Linked DNA regions of Homo sapiens. The protein of the gene in region 1 purifies or fractionates together with the protein of each later gene. This does not show direct contact. Each region holds a gene or a part of one and is shown on either strand. Other genes may lie near its edges.

Region 1 (5,058 bases):
CTCCAAATTGGATGACCTCAGTTCATTAAAACCTTGCATTACCCAGAAAACATATTCTTTGGCAACTTCCTCACAATTCTCCGTTATGACAGAAGTTAAAGCAGACCACCCTGTAATAATTGCTCCCACAGACAGCAAGTCAAAGTCCTTATCCTTATTCCAAGAGAGAGCATCTTCAATGAGGTAAATAGTTCTTGGAGGTGCTCCACTTGGAAGATGAATATATGTTCATCTCCATAAATTTAAAATGCAAGTTTTCAAAGAGTTCTGCTGGGTCTGATTTTCCAGGGTCCAAAATATCTCCAGACATCCCTTTTGTCTCACAGATAATTTCCACAGTAAGACAGTGGGCGTTCTGGGGGAGCTACAGAACACTCCCCTCATTCCCTCCTCCACCAGTACAACTCCACTTCCACTCCCCTGTTCCAAGATATTTGTAGCTATCACAAACCCGTCAGAGTCAAGAGTACAAGTGTTACCTACTCCAGACATACTGGTCTTTAACTGCCTAAACGTTCCTTGATCTTGAGTGGATCACTTATTTTATCTAGCTTTTCATTAGCTGACAATGAGTGGTAAACTTTAGGGGTAGAAACCTTTAGAGGCAACCATATAGATTCATCAGATCAGTTCCGGGATGGGGGCACTGATCAGTCTCTCCTGGTGGCCCTCCCAGCAGGAATCTCTACCATCACTATTTCTACCCTCTAATCATGGCACTTGTTTTCAAAGTTCTTACCAACATGCTCACCATTCTCATGCCAAAACTACTCATCTCCACTCCTACAAAGCCCAGCAGAAGGCAACAGCTGGCAGTGTTTCTGCTGCCCTCTCTTCTGGAAGTTCTCCATCTTCCAGAAGATGGGTTGACACAGAGGGTAAGCGTCCACTTGTTTAACTTCCAAAGTCCATAAACTCCCTAAATCCCCAAAAGTCAAACACACTAAATACTATTGCATGGTCTTAGTTTATAAAGCAGTGTGTGAAATCATAATGGGATAACTGATATACAATCCAAATATCACTATCTTTAACCTAATTATCTATATCATCCTAACAACTACTGCATTCCTGACACTCAACCTAAATTCAAGCACCACAACCTTATTACCATCTCGCGCCTGAAACAAATTAACATGATTAACATCCCTAATCCTATCAATTTTACTATCCCTAGTAAATCCCATTATGATTTCACACACTGGTCCAGGGCTCCCTCACGCACCAGCAGGGCTTCTGGCTGACTACAAGGAACAGAGGTTGGAGCTTCATATGCTGAAGTGCCTTGGATGGAGAGTTCTTTCCTATTTTTTCTGGAGTCTTTTTTCCATCACTTTTTACATAATCGGCAACAAAGCCCTTTGGGGCCTCAGCACTTTCCCAGTTCCCCAGCCATCCCTCAGTTAACTGCCAATAAAAATTACAATCTCACTAACGCTAGTGAGAATTTAATGAACTAGGTAAATTAAATTTTACCTAGTTCAATTCACCTAGTTTACCTAGTTCAGGGCCCGCCCCTCCACCACTCATTTTATGACTCCAAATTATCCAAACTGCTCTGGAAGGCATCAATAAAGTTGTTAGCTCCTTGACTATTTTCAGCTCTGGAAAAACAATCTGGAGGAACAATCCAAGGTAAAATTATATCCACTCAAAGTACAATCATTAAAAGCAGGCTACCTGGCAACATAGAAAATTTTGCCTCGGGAAAAAAAAAAAAAGGCTAGAAAAGAAATACTTTACAACTACAATCGCTGACGCATTAGTATGATGGGGCCCTTCAAGCAGTAATACCACCATCAAGTACGATTTATACTTCGTGATGTCCTAGATGGTTTGATTTTTTGCAGTAGTAGAAGAAAACAGCATCGGGCTAAATCTCTCATCCCCACAAGACTCAATAAAACCTGTCAAATGAAATACAAATACATATTCACAAAATATTTCCTACTAGAAATTCTCAGAGTTTTGTACCCAAGTCATTAAGCACCTATTTATGGATCCTATGGAAAGGGGGGCGGTTCGCACACTTATCATTTAATCCCCATAATAACTCTGAGAGGAGGTATCATGGCCTTAATTTTGCATATGAAGAAACAGCTATTTCAACATAATAAGTCACTATCCAAGGTCATACAGGGGTGTCACAGCAAAGACTCACATCCAGCCTTTTGACTGGTGTTCATTGTTCTTCTCAGTGTTTTCTTAGTTCCTTAAACCCAAACTAAGCGTCACCATTAACACTATTTCCAGAAACCAATTTTCTGTCATATCAAACTGATGCGATCACAGTTGTCACTTGATATTCGAGACTTTCCCTGTTGTGGGCTACCCCAGATCCTACTAATAATGATCACCCTGCTTTTCGAATGTGAAATGCACGTTATTAAAATATTTTCACGAAATCGTAAGATGGCCAAAGTTTTGCATAACAATGTCACAAAAAGGAAGAGGGCAAGGAGGCTAGCTGTGCCCCCCAAGGCCCCGTGGGGCCGACTCGGCTCTTTCACAGGGCCACGTGGGAAACGTGAGTATCTTAAAGGTCGCGGTGGTGGCTGTGCTCAGTTTCGGGGTCACAGAGGCCCACGCTCCGCGGACCGGGGTCGGAAGGCGCCGTGGGCTTCCCGCGGCCAGTCTTCGAAGCCCCTCCACGCCCGCAGGCCTCACCTTGAGTGTCTCGTAGGCGGTTGCCACCAGCAGGAAAGCCTCCTCGGCGCTCTGCGGCGTCCGCCCGGGGCCCTCGTCTCCGGGCTGGGGCCGGTAGCGGTCAGGGTGGTAGCGCCGGGCCAGCTGGCGGTAGGCCCGCGCGATCTCCGCCTTGCCCGCCGAGCGGCTCACGCCCAGCACCTCGTAGCAGTCCCGCGTGCCGCAGTAGAGCCCCTCCACCAGGGCCCCCGCGGGCCGCACCAGCAGCAGCGCCGGCAGCAGGGGCGCCAGCAGCATCCACCAGCGCCGGCCGGCAGCCCCGGCTCCCCAGCCGGGAGAGAGCAGCGGCGCCCCCATCCCCAGCCTCGCTGGCGGCTCTGCCACCCCAGCGATTCTGCAGCACTCAGCCGCGCGCCCGGCTAGTCCCGTCTGGCCCCAGCTACACGTCAGCAGCCGACGCCTCCGCGCAGGCGCACAGGGCGCGGCTACAGCAACTACTTCCTTCGCAACCCGTTGGTAGGGAGAAGGACGCCTCAGCCACTAGGCTGCTTCCGGTGTGTCACTGAACACCTTCCCCGTACCAGCAGCTGGAGGATTTGTTTGGTAGCACCTGGGGGATGGCTCTGTCCCGGGCGCACTTAGGCGGGCTGTGCGGAGCGCTTTACCTTCCACAGTGTCCGGCACACGCATCCTTTTCGACATCATCACTTGACCTGCTGCAATAGGTAACCTACCTGGCTCTCTCGCATCCCGTTATCAGCGTCAAGAAGATTTGCACGTAGGCCTTTAAAGCCAGCCACCAGCCCCGGGCGCCTTCCTCTCACTAACCCCATGCTGCCTTTCCAAACGGAAGATGAACTTAGCAATTCTAGGCGCTGCCTGTGTACTAGGTAGGGACCCTGAAAGTTCATAGCCATCTAGTTCAGTTTTTCTCAGCCTCCACGCTATTGACATTTTAGACCAGATAATTCTTTGCCTTTGAGGGGCTGCCCTTTGCATTGTAAGATGTTTAGCAGCATATCTGGCCTCTCCACACTAAATGCCAGTAGTGCCACCACCCCCAGTCATGACAATAAAAAATCTCTGTACGCGGGTCTGTGCGTCCACCTTGGGCTGCGCGTTCCCGGGACAACCTGCTGGAAGGATCAAGCGATCCTTCCAAAATGCTAGGATTACAGGCGTGAGCCACCGTGCCCGGCCTACATTTGAATTTCAGATAATAATTTTTTAGTATAAGTATGTCCAAAATATTGCATGGGACTATATGGCAACATGAAAAACTTTGCCTCAAAAAATCTGTTTCTATCATTCATCTGGTAAATGTTTATTGAGTCTCTACTCTGAGCCGGGCACTGTTACTTAGGCACTGGGGATACAGTGGTGAGCAAAGTAAACAAGAAGCTCAACTTCAGAGAGCATATATTCTGATGGAGGATGACAGTCAGTAACAAATAAATAAACGTTCAGATATAATCAACTCTTTTAATAAAGTGAAATCAAATACTGATACATAGCATTATATACTTATAATACATAATGAATATACATTATAATTTTGTATTTCTCATTGAATAAATATATATCTCTCATTACATATATCTCCCTCATTACATATATAATATATATAATCTCATTACACATATATGTCTCTGTCATTACATATATAACATATATGTGTCTATTTTTCACCTCAGCCCACTAAATATTGCATGGGACTATATAGCAACATATACAGTTATATATGTAATGAGAGAGATACATGTATATGTAATGAGATACAAAAGTTATATATATAATAACAATTTTGTGTATCATATATGCTTATTTACATTTGTATCTCATATATGTTTATATATGCTTATATATGGCTTATATATATGCTTATATATATATATAATGAGAAAGATAAAATGAATGGAAACACATGGGAGGGTCTCCTGAAATTATTAGGATCGGGATCAATTACAAGCATCAATTCCAGTAGGAGCTGACAGCTAAACTGACTTTGGAGGACGAATAGAGAATGGCTTGAAGGATGTGAATTAGAGAGGAGTTTGGGGACAAGGGAGTGTGAAATAAGTACCAAGAAGAGAAACGAGCCATGGGCAAGAAAAAAATAATAATAAAGCTTTTCAAAAAATGAAAGACAACCTATATGACTAGGAGTAGAGGTAAGGAGTGTAGGAGATGAAACTGGAGAAAGCCAAGTTGCAAAGGGTCATTTTATCCCATGTCAAAGAAGTTGTTCCTTATCTTAAGAGCAATGGAAAGGCCAATATGGGGTCTTTGAGCAAAAAGTGACACCTTCGGATTGACATTTCAGAACCATTACTCTGCCTGGGAAAATGAGTTGGGATGTATCAGGAAGACCATTAGGAGACAGTTATGAGTCCAAGTAGCCTGTAATCCCAG
Region 2 (5,312 bases), on another chromosome or scaffold:
GGAATAAAGCCGAGCTCATAGAAGCAGAGAGAAAATGGTGGTTACCAGAGATTAGGGAGTGGGGCAAATAGGAGGATACTGGTCAAACGGTAAAGTTTTACTGAGGCAGGATGAATAAGTTCTGGAGGTCTAATGTACAGCCTGGTGTCCATAGTTAATAATAACACATTTATTAGTTAATAATATGAAATTTGCTAAGACAGTATATATCTTGTTCTCACCGCACACACAAAAAAACAATGTGAGGTGATGGATACGTTAATTACTTGATTTTAGTAATCATTTCACAATATATACATATAACCAAACGTCACACTATATACTATAACTATATACAATTTTTAGTTGCCAATTGTGTAGCTCATTAAAGCTGGAACCCACACATCCCCCCAAAAAACACTAAACAATGAAATCTGAAATCATGTTGTACACGTGCTTAAAGCCCTGTAAAGCCTTAAACCTTTGTTCTCTCCAGAATCTGGCCCTTGCCCACCTCCTCAGCACCTGTGCTCATCACATCCCGCCCCCTGCACCAGCAAAGCCAAACTTCTAGCCATTTTCTGAACAAAGTTGGCTGCTGCTTCACATCTGGGCTCGAGTCCTCTGCCTGTCTGTGTAAAAGGTCTTATCTCATCTGTCCTTTGAACATCTACTCATTGTTCAAGACTCAGGGCGGGCACGGTGGCTCACACCTGTAATCCCAGCACTTTGGGAGGCCAAGGAAGGCGAATCACGAGGTCAGGAGATCAAGAACATCCTGGCCAACATGGTGAAACCCCATCTCTACTAGAAATACAAAAATTAGCCAGGCGTGGCAGTGCGTGCCTGTAGTCCTAGCTACTTGGGAGGCTGAGGCAGGTGAATTGCTTGAACCCAGGAGGCGGAGCTGCAGTGAGCTGATATCACGCCACTGCACTTCAGCCTGGGTGACAGAGCGAGACTCCATCTCAAAACAAAAAACAAAAAAAACCTCAGCCCCAGATGGAAATGTGACAGTCTCACCTGCACTCAGCAATAAACAACTTACCAGCTACAAACTCTGTTCCTGCAAGTTCTGCAGTAGCAAGGAAGTCATCAAGGGAGCTCTGTTCAGTCACTGACTGAAGATTAAGACGACCCCAATCATAGCCATCATTGAGTTCACTTGTGTGCAACTATGAAAAAACACAGGGTGATAAATACAGCTGCTCTCTTCTGCTCTTGGCATCCAATAAGCTCTAAAATTCCTTGCAACTAGTCTATGGTCTTGAGGGTGGTTGTAGTCCCTTTAGAATCAATACTACTTATAGTTAATGTTTAAAGGAACACGTTCTTACCTCACAATAGGCAGTTCCCTTTCACCATTTCATTAATTTTCAAAATCTTTTGAGGTGAATTTTACTGTATTTCCATTTTACTGATGATGAAACTAAGGCTTCAGCAGATAAAATAACTTGCCTATAGTCAAAATCTAAATGGCACAGGTAGAACTTGAACCCAGATTGTCTGACTGTGCTAGTCAAAATTAGTCAAAACTTTATTTGATATAATCCCACAATAAGAAATACATTTTACATAGTGACCCAAAGGTGTATGTACATATAATGATACAAGCATTCAAGTACCGTTCAGTACAGTAAAATGGCAATAGAAGAATACTGAAACCACACCCTATTACATGCAACATTCTGATATTTCTCTATCTTGCTGGGGAAAAAATAAAAACAAAACAAAACAGCTAGCTGCAGACCACTAAATTGACTTCCAGACACAACCCAGAGTTTGATAACCATCACCCTAAGCTATATACTTAGTATAGATACAAATAAAAAAAAATTGCCAGGCGTGGTGGTTTGTGCCTGTAACCCCAGCTCCTCAAGAGGCTAAGGCAGGAGGATTGCTTGAGGCCAGGAGTTTGTGATCAGCTTGGGCAACACAGCAAGACCCTGTCTCTCCAAAACAAACAAACAAAACCAAACAACCAGGCCTGATGGTGTGCACCTGTAATGCCAGCTACTCAAGAGACTGAGGCAGGGGGATTATTTGTGCCCAGAAGTTTGAGACTGTAGTGAATTGGTGAGTTATGATCACACCACTGGCACTCTAGCCTGGGTGACAGAGTGTGACCCTGTCTCTAAAAATGAATAACTGAATGATGAATGAATTTCCTAAATAAATATTAAGGGCCAAAAGTTTAAGTGGGCATAGAATCAGCAAAAATAAGGAATTAGGATCCAATTCTTTACCATTCATGTTCAATCTTCCCACAGTTTCCTAAAAGGCTTCATTAGTAACAAGTTGCTTCAAAGCTAATAAAAATTACCAGTAATCTAATGTCCAGAGTAACTCTGACCTGATGAATACTGATAAGCACTCCATGCTGTTTACTCTGCAGACTATATGGATGAAAGTCAGCTGGTGTGACAGTGGCACACGCTTACTTAGCTCCAGGGACATATTTAACTAAATTTAGCACACGATCTTAGCACTCAACATGTTCTCATTCATTCCCGGGGGAATGAATGGTGAAAATAACGACTAGAATGATGAACACAAGCCAAATCACTTCATTCATTTTTTTAAAGATCCTTCTATAACCTAGTAAAATATTAGGTCTTGTCACACCTGAAAAATCAATGATTTATCTTTGAGCTAAACCACTAGGGGGTGCTTCGCAAGGATGAGGCAAGGATCTGAATTATTTTATATTTCTGGCAGTAACCAACCGCTTCTGGAGGATCCATTCTTTGAACAAATCAATACAAAAATACGTTTTGTCTTTTTCCTGCTCTGGAAGTTCCAAGCACTTCAGTGGCTTCTAGGGCAAAACCCAAACGTACTCAAGACCTGGCATTGAAGACTCTTCAGATTCTCACTCCACGCCTCATCACCACACTAACTCTTCTTTCAAGCTTCTCCTACCTTTGTGTTCTGGGCCTTGCCAGGAGGAGGGCCTGCTACTCAGCTTGGCAGAAACTCCAACTCATCCTTCAAAACCCGGCTGAGGCGTCCCTCCTGCAAAACTTATCTGACTTTTGACCCCGAATTTTGCAGCACTCAGGCTAGACAGAAAAGATAAGAAAGATGACATGGTCTGTCTTACCCAGGAGTCAGTGTGACGATGGCTTCGGCTCCGCTGAGTCTGATGGCGCATAAGGGCCCGTCCCAGCGACCCACCGGCCGGGGCTCTCCTCCGGCCCATGGCAACACGACCGCTGGACGAAGCTTCCCGGCTCGGCGCGTGCAGTTTCCGGGATTCACAGTTCGATCCCCGGAAGTGACGATAAGCGAGCCCAAGTAGTTCAGGCTCAAACTTGAGAGGGGAAAGCAGAATGACTTGTTCTCAAGTTCTCCTTTTACGTCTCGATTTTACCAGTATTATAGAATATAAGTGAAAAAATGGTTCTGGGAAATTTTCGATAGATTTCCTGGCGAATGTCTCGAGTTTGGATAAATGACTGAGTTAAAAGAATGGTCCATTCTTAATTTGTGCGTCGGTCTTTAGCGTCCGGCGAGAAACTAGAGCACGTCGGAAACATGGCGGTTCCTATTCGCGGCACTAGCTCCGCCTTCCGCTGCTTCCGTCAGGAGGACGCGGAGACTCGGAGGAAGAGTGTTTCGGTGGCGCTGGGACGGGGGCGTTTCCCAGCGCTGGTTTTCTGCTGGCGTCCCGAGGTGTGGTCTCTCCGAGGTCCAGCACAGCAACTAACTTTTTGTTTATCTAGCCGACCCCAGCTGCGAACTGGGGAGAAAAGTCTTCGCCTGGATGTGAATTTGGAATGAGAGGCTGAATAGTATTTCCAGAGCTTGGCAAGGTTGTAGGAAAAGCCAACAGGAAGTGACTTACGCTTTATTTCAAAGAAAAAAAAAATGTTTAAACAGTTCTAATTATATTTTCATTACCCTTTTTAAAAATAATTAAAATGAAAGTGAAAACAGTGAGCCAGCTCCACTCCTAGAGGCCTGGGCTTTTGTTCCTCACTTGAATGTTTGATTTCCCTATAATGGGAATAATAGAAAGTCAGCTTAGAGTGGCTGGTGAACTACATTCTCATTGATCCAGAGAACCATCTCTTTGTTTTGATGCTTGGAGAGAGGAAGCAGCTTGAGCAAGTCGTAGATTGAGTGCGTGCAGTGTCAGGAATAAACCCAAGTCTTGTCACTAGCCTGTACACCCCTGGGGAGAGTGGGGAATGAGGGTTGTTAACATGTATTATTTATTTATTTTTATCTTTTGAGACAGAGTCTCGCTGTCCCCCAGGTGGAGTGCAAAGGCATGATCTCGGCTCACTGCAACCTCTGCTTCCCGGGTTCAAGTGATTCTCCTGCCTTAGCCTCCCGAGTAGCGGGAATTACAGACACGTGCCACCGCACCCAGCTAATTTTTGTATTTTTAGTAGAGACAGGGTTTGACTATTTTGGCCAGGCTGGTCTCGAACTCCTGACCTCAGGTGATCGCCCGCCTCGGCCTCCCAAAGTGCTAGGATTACAGGTATGAGCCACTGCGCCTGGCCAAACATGTATTTTTAAATCATAGGATCGAGGTAATGCATATATTACCTAGCATAGCTTGATTTAGCCATTCCACAATGTACACATATATCAAAACATTATGCGGTACAACGTAAGTAATAAACAATTTTTAGTTGTCAATTAAAACAACAGCCAAAAAGAAATAAATAGGATCAAGAATCTGTTTAACCTAGGGCTTTTCACACTTTAATGTGCATATAAATCCCCTGGGAATCTTGTTAACATGCAGATTCTGATTCATAAGCTCTGGGGTGAGGCCTGTGGCTCTAACAAGCTTCCAGGTGATACCCATAGTACTGGTCCTTGGGTCACACTTTGAGTAGCAAGCGTAGTCCACTCTTTCCTGGTGCAAATGAAGACACAGAAGTGGACTGGCTAAAGGTCAGTCATAGCAAGTTAGCATCAGGCGAAACTGGGTCCAGACTCCCACCCATTCTGAATTCCCTGCCAGGGTTTCTGTGTGCTGCACCTTACCCCTCTTACTGAATTGAAGTGAGTTTTGGGAAATGCCCAAGGGACTGCTGGCAAGCTGTGAAGCAGTTGGCAACGCTTTGAGAAGGCAGTGCTCACAGATGAGCAAAGGAATGCATCAGAACATCATTTCTCCCATTTCTCAATTTAGAAACAGTGTATCTTTAAAATCCTACACATAATCTCCAGAAGTAAGATATGAAGAAGACCCACGAAATAGAATTAGCAGACAGCTCCCGGCATTCTCTCCAGAGCTAAGTGGTTAAAGGTCAAACTAACTCATGAAGTAAGATTTCACATTTTAATAATAATACTAGGAGGTGAGATAA

Evidence for each region.
Region 2: the proteins of DNAJC25 (region 1) and LSG1 purify together in Homo sapiens (affinity purification with mass spectrometry, with the first as the bait; one large-scale study listed by BioGRID). This does not show direct contact.

The regions. Positions count from the first base shown.
Region 1 is NC_000009.12:111,629,353-111,634,410, reverse strand, and holds the start of DNAJC25 (dnaJ homolog subfamily C member 25 precursor), read right to left. Parts: upstream 3,078-5,058; 5' UTR 3,004-3,077; coding exon 2,668-3,003; intron 1-2,667. Other genes in the region: DNAJC25-GNG10 protein precursor, read right to left, coding at 2,668-3,003.
Region 2 is NC_000003.12:194,668,982-194,674,293, forward strand, and holds the start of LSG1 (large subunit GTPase 1 homolog), read right to left. Parts: upstream 3,211-5,312; 5' UTR 3,182-3,210; coding exon 3,083-3,181; intron 1,155-3,082; coding exon 1,028-1,154; intron 1-1,027. UniProt on the Homo sapiens protein: Functions as a GTPase. May act by mediating the release of NMD3 from the 60S ribosomal subunit after export into the cytoplasm during the 60S ribosomal subunit maturation.